Homo sapiens: one gene and its partner. The protein of the gene in region 1 interacts with the protein of each later gene in a biochemical or structural test. Each region holds a gene or a part of one and is shown in the gene's direction. Other genes may lie near its edges.

The links. The genes of interacting proteins can lie anywhere in the genome.
Region 2: the proteins of ARMH1 (region 1) and TRPV4 interact in a test that uses a peptide from one of them, tested with the Homo sapiens proteins (one large-scale study listed by BioGRID).

Annotation. Positions count from the first base shown.
Region 1 is NC_000001.11:44,722,903-44,726,091, forward strand, and holds the end of ARMH1 (armadillo-like helical domain containing protein 1), read left to right. Parts: intron 1-1,132; exon of another isoform or gene 1,133-1,219; coding exon 1,220-1,342; exon of another isoform or gene 1,343-1,417; coding exon 1,418-1,490; coding exon of another isoform or gene 1,491-1,598; exon of another isoform or gene 1,599-1,618; coding exon of another isoform or gene 1,619-1,636; coding exon 1,637-1,766; exon of another isoform or gene 1,767-1,859; coding exon 1,860-1,937; coding exon of another isoform or gene 1,938-1,941; exon of another isoform or gene 1,942-2,130; coding exon of another isoform or gene 2,131-2,233; coding exon 2,234-2,315; intron 2,316-2,388; coding exon 2,389-2,501; 3' UTR 2,502-2,689; downstream 2,690-3,189.
Region 2 is NC_000012.12:109,785,494-109,788,398, reverse strand, and holds part of TRPV4 (transient receptor potential cation channel subfamily V member 4), read left to right. Parts: intron 1-1,502; coding exon of another isoform or gene 1,503-1,523; exon of another isoform or gene 1,524-1,561; coding exon 1,562-1,689; intron 1,690-2,905. UniProt on the Homo sapiens protein: Non-selective calcium permeant cation channel involved in osmotic sensitivity and mechanosensitivity. Activation by exposure to hypotonicity within the physiological range exhibits an outward rectification.

The DNA of each region.
Region 1 (3,189 bases):
CAAAAAAAAAAAAAAAAAAAAATTAGCCGGGTGTGGTGGCGGGCGCCTGTAATCCCAGCCTACTCGGGAGGCTGAGGCAGGAGAATTGCTTGAACCCAGGAGGCGGAGGTTGCAGTGAGCCGAGATCGCGCCACTGCACTCCAGCCTGGGCGACAGAGTGAGGCTCTGTCTCAAAAAAAAAAAAAAGGTAGCATTTATGCTGGTGTGCCATCATCTTAGCATCTCCTTCTCCTCCTGCCCCCTCTAGCTCTGTGGTTCCTTTCTCTTCTTTACAAAAACATTCAATCCTTGCCGATTTTCTCTTGTGCTCCCACAGCCCAATCACTGACTCCTTCCACAGCACCTGTCACCATATCATCGCTGCCTGTTTGTGCACGCTTAAGGAGGGTTGGTCGAATGAATGAATTCAGTCTGTATCCTCAACACCCAATGCCGCGCCTGGCACCATAGGCGTTCACATGCAGCCGTGCCGAAAGACTGAGTGAATGCTGGACTGAATGAATGACTGCCTGTAAAATATCTACAGGAAAGCCCTGCAGGAAATGCCCTCCATAAATTCTAGTCCCCTTCTCCTTCCTAACCAAATCCTCCCCTCCTTCTGCTTCCATCACTTCCTAGCTGTGTAACTTAGGCAAAGTGGTTTACCTCTCTGTGTCTAATTTCGGCAAAGGTAAAATGGGGAAGTGAACCTCATCTGGTTCTGGTGAGCTTCCACGGGTGCTGTATGGAAAGCCTGGCACCCTGCCTGGTGGAGAGGGCTCGATGATGGTTAGAAGGAGAGTTTCTCTAAACTGCCGCCTACCTTCCTTCCCCTTTCTCATTTCCTGCCACAAGTCTCCCACCCACTTTCTCTGTCTCCCTCTCACCCCTTGTCTTTCTCCATCTTGTCTTCCCGTAAAGACCCAGCCCTTCCCTCCTCCATGAAACCTGGATTCCTCCAAGGCGAAGGCCCCCCTCTCTGGGGTCTCAGCCTCCAGCGCTGACATCCTAGGCCGCCTCGACAGGTGGGCTCACCATCCAACCCTTCCTCCTCCCCCTTCAGCCCCCTCCTCCTGCTCTTCAACTGAGGTTCGCCTTCCCAGCTCCCCCACGCCCTGCACAGTGCTGATCAGTAAAAGAGGAGGACACTGACGAGTGGCGACTTGGTTCACGGGGTTCTTTGCTTCCTCGGTGGCGGAGGGGCCTGGGGCCTCTCTCCAGCACCTCTGCCCTTCCGCAGCCATCGAGTTGATCAAAGACCTGGTCGGTTACGATGTGCGCCAGGCGCTGCTCAAGGGCCTCGTGGCGCTGCTGATACCGTCGGTCAAGGAGATCTCCAAACTGCAGGCCAAGATCCTCAGTGGTAAGGACCTGCTCAAATGGGGCTGCCTGGGCCACGGGAGGGCGGTCTCTTGCCTCACGGCTGCCCCCTCCTCAGACCCCTCGGTTCTCCAGCTCACCCCCAGCCTGCCGATGTTTTTGCAGCAGGCCGCGGCCGCCAAGGCCATCGGGTAAGCGGGCAGGGGTTAGTGGGTAGCTGCAGCAAGCCTGGCTTGGCGCTGCCGGCGGGCCCCGGGAGCGCTCCGTGCGCCGGGTGGGCGGGGGTGTGCGCCGGGTGAGCCCCAGGGCGTCGCCCCAGCCCGAACCCCCGGCCCAGGGTCCTGGCGCGCAACGACATGAGCATCGCCGAGGAGCTGCTGTACCTGCGCGTGGTGCGTGGCCTAATGGCCGCCATGGGCAACACGGACCACAGCAACAGCCAGCGGCTGGCCAGCCTCACGCTGGAGGTGCGCGCGGCGGCTGGTTAGGGGGCGGGAAGGGCGGCGGCACCCGCAGCCCCGTCGCCCCCGCAGTCACGCCGCCTCGCCCGCGCGGCGCAGTGCTTCGTGCAGATGTTCCCCTTGGTGGCGGAGCACGTGCGCAAGTGCATGGGGGAGGAACTCTACCAGCTCTTCCTGGTAAGTGCGCCCTTCCTGCCCCGCCGCAATGAGCAGATGGCGGCTCGGACAGTGTGATGCCCCTTCAGACAGTCCCCATCCTGGAGCGCGCCACATGCAGAGTGGACCTGGCCACCAGCTGCAGGAGGGACTGCTCTGGCGTAGGCTCCTCCACCCGCCACCTTCCTGTTCCCTTTCCTGCCCTTTCGGTCAGGCTGCCGACCCGCCCCCCACCTGCAACATCCCTCTGCCAAGCCCAACTCCAAGTCCAGACTGCCCTGGCACCCCAGCCGGGTCCCCCTTGCTCCTGTCCTCAGAGCAACGCTGAGGACTTGTACATGAAAATAGACAGCATTCAGGCGGACATCTTGGCGGCCAACACAGTCAATGTTACCAAAGGTGAGTGTGGGACGAGGGAAGCCGGGCGCAGGCGCCGCCAGCACAGCCTCACGCCCGCCTTTCCTGCCTGCAGCCCTGTGCCTCCATGGCAGCTCCTACAGCATGAACACTCTCTATGGCTCGCGCGATTCGGCTCAGATGGCCTACCTCACACACTTCGAGGAGGATGTAGAATCAAAGGAGTAACAGCCCCTGTGGCAAACCAGGAAGGCCAAGGCTGCGGGGCAGGGAAGCCTGGCAAGAGGAAGGCGCCTGGGGTCAAGCTCAGAGCCACTCCACTTGGCTCCAGGGGGGAGACGGGGATTAGGCATCCCAGAGGGGCAGAGGAAGAGCCGCTGGCTGCGAAGAGTCAATAAACAGCCTTGATACCTGTCTGTTCTTTGTGTGTGTGGAGGGGGAAGGGAGGTCAAGTGAGAGCTATGATGCTAGATTGTGGTGCCTGTGCTCCTCAAGTTAAAAAGCAGGTCCAAGTTTAGGACGGTGGCTTGCACCTGTAATCCTAGCTACTCTGCAGGCTGAAGGAAGAAGATCTCTTGAGCCCAAGAGTTGGAAGCCATCATGGACAACAAAGCAAGACCCCATCACAAAAACAGGCCGGGCACGGTGGCTCACGCCTGTAATCCTGGCAGTTTGGGAGGCTGAGGTGGGCGGATCGCCTGAGGTCAGGAGTTCGAGACCAGCCTGGCCAACAGGGTCAAACTCCGTCTCTACTAAAAAATAAATAAAAAATAAAAAATTAGCCGGGTGTGGTGGCACACACTTGTAATCCCAGCTACTTGGGAGGCTGAGGCAGGAGAATCACTTCAACCCGGGAGGTAGAGGCTGCAGTGAGCCAAGATCACACTACTGCACTCCAGCCTCCTGGGCGACAGAG
Region 2 (2,905 bases), on another chromosome or scaffold:
TGAGGCCCCAGGGCCCCCAGCCCCACTCTACCAGCCACCCTCGTCCTTCCGAGGAGACCCACCCGACTGGCTTCCTCGGCCTTCCACTCTGAGCAAGCAGTGTCTTCTCATTCTCCCTCCACTTCTCTGTCGGTAAAATGGGCATCAGAGGCTGCTGCTGACTTCCCAGAGCTGCCTAGTGAATTTTGAGGTGGCTTCTTGCCTGGCTGCCAGCAGTGGGCTCAGATTCTCCTTGTGGTCCAGCTCACAGGACACAGTCGGCTCCACCTAGCATGACTGAGTGACTTCTGCCGGCTCAGAAAGTGCTCCGTGGGCATCAGCGTTTCAGCAGGGGTCCCACGCTGAGCCCAGGGGCAGCTTTTGTGCTCTAGCACTCCAGCACAGGGATGTCAGCATTCTCATGGGGGTCTTTTTCTAGCAACTGTGAGCATGCTTCCTAGAGGAGAAACCAATGGGGACAGGGGCCGCCTTGGCCCGGGGAGCTGCAGAAAGTTTTTACTTACCAAAAGCTTTCTATGCAATCCTGGAAAGAACAGGCCCTGGGATCACAGCCCTCCCAGGCCAGGTGCAGCCTACAAACCTGGTGTCCTAATAAACAGTGCTGCCCCACGGCCCAGGAATACAGCACCCGTGTTTACCTTGACTGTGCATTTCAGGAAAATGGTGCAGTGAGAAAAAAGGGCCCAAGGTTGTCCTCCCAGGACTGGGTCTGAGGGAAACAGCTCTGGCCTGCTCTTAACCTTTATCTATATTGCTTACTTCATTGGGCCTCAGTTTCCCCACTGGGCATTACTCACAGGATGCAAACTGGGCATCCTGTGGGCTGGAGTGCAATGGTGTGATCTTGGCTCACTGCAACCTCTGCCTCCCAGGCTCAAGTGATTCTCTGTCCTCAGCCTCCCGAGTAGCTGGGGCTAAGGTGTGCACCACCTCACCCGGCTAATTTTTGTATTTTTTGTAAAGATGGGGTTTCACCATGTTGCCCAGGCTGGTCTTGAACTTCTGAGTTCAAGCTATCCACCTGCCTTGGCCTCCTAAAGTGCTGAGATTGCAGGTGTGAGCCACTGCACCCAGCATCAGACCATTATATTAAAAACAACAACAACAACAAAAAACTGCAAAATTTAAAAATTAAGAGATTCCCTATGAAAACCCAGATTTCTGGCTTTTCTTGAAAAGTTGGAAGCTCCAGGCAGTGCAGGGTCCGGATTCCTGCCTGGCAGCCCTCAGGTGGGGTGAGTGGCAGCTGCCCCCTTACACGTGGGCATTTGCTCCCTGTTCTCCCCAGTCTCTACCCCTCCCTCACTGAGAGGCAACTGCTGTGTAAGTGTGATAGGGCTTGGGCGGCAGCCTTTCTGCACCTGATCCTGTTTCACCCATTTGTTTTCCTGCCTGCCACCTGTGGGTATTTGAGTTTATAAACCCTGTGTCTAGTGGGGAGTAGGAGTCTAAATGCCTAGTTCTGGGCCCACCCTGGCCCGTTGTCTCATTTCTGCCACCAGAGCGGCAGGCGCAGGCTGTGAGGCTCACCGATGTCCCTCCTGACCCTCCCTCCCCGCAGTGGGCCACCACCATCCTGGACATTGAGCGCTCCTTCCCCGTATTCCTGAGGAAGGCCTTCCGCTCTGGGGAGATGGTCACCGTGGGCAAGAGCTCGGACGGCACTCCTGACCGCAGGTGGTGCTTCAGGTGAGGCTGGGGCAGTGGGGCCAGGATGGCAGGGCGGAACTGTCCCCACTGGCTCGGGGCCCCTGCTGCTCCAGCGTCGTCTACCCATTGCAATTTCTGGAGCCACTGAGGCCCCAAGAGGCCCGAGCAGAGTTCATTTCCACCAGGCGATCTCAGGCAAGTCAGCCCACCTCTCTCAGCCTCAGTTTCTTCATCTGTGGAATGAGACAATGATCTCACGGGCTCCTAGGCTGGCGGTGCGGATTAGACAGGTCAGCACGTGAGAAGTGCTCAGCCAGTGCCCGACGCGCATCGGGACGCCACAGGCTCCCCTGTTCTTGCTCAGGGGGAAGCAGAGACTTGGATGGTGGGTTCATTTTAGAGCATCACCCTGTATCTACCAAACAGTGGGGTGAGCTCTAGTGCCCTCGGTGAAATGGGAAGCTGAGGAATGTGCAGTTTCCAGGGCTGGAGACCTCACCCAGCCCATCTGCAGAATGACTCCGTGTTCCAGAGGCACAGGGAGTGCCAGCTTCTTAGGGGAACCCCTTCATGAATCTTTTCTTTCCAGTTGATTCATTCATTGTAAAGTGGTTGTCAGCATGGAGCATAAGCAGAATGTTTGGAGTCAGACAAAGTCAGTTTCTTCATCTGTGAAATGGGAACAATAATAGAACCCACCTCCTAGGCCATCCGATCAGTTCAATTCCATTTTTTGTTTGTTTTTAGAGGCAGGGTTGCTCAGGCTGGAGTGCAGTGGTGTGATCATAGCTGACTGCAGCCTCCAACTCCTGGTCTCAAGCGATCCTCCCACCTCAGCCTCCTCATGCCACCATGTCCGACCAATTTTTAATTTTTTTGTAGAGATGGGGTTCTTGCTATGTTGCCCAGGCTGGTCTCAAACTCCTGGTCTCAAGCGATCTTCCCACCTCAGCCTCCCAAAATGCTGGGATTACAGGCGTGAGCCACCACACCCAGCCTCTGTTCAGTTTGAATCCAAAGCTCAAATCTTGGCTGGGTGTGGTGGCTCGTGCTTGTAATCCCAGCACTTTGGGAGGCCAAGGTGGGTGGATCACCTGAGGTCAGGAGTTTGAGACCACCCTGGGCAACATGGTGAAACCCTGTCTCCACTAAAAATACAAAAATTAGTCGGGAGTGGTGGCATGCACCTGTAATCCCAGCTACTCGGGAGGCTGAGGCAGGAGAATCGCTTGAACCTGGTAGGTGGAGGTTGCAG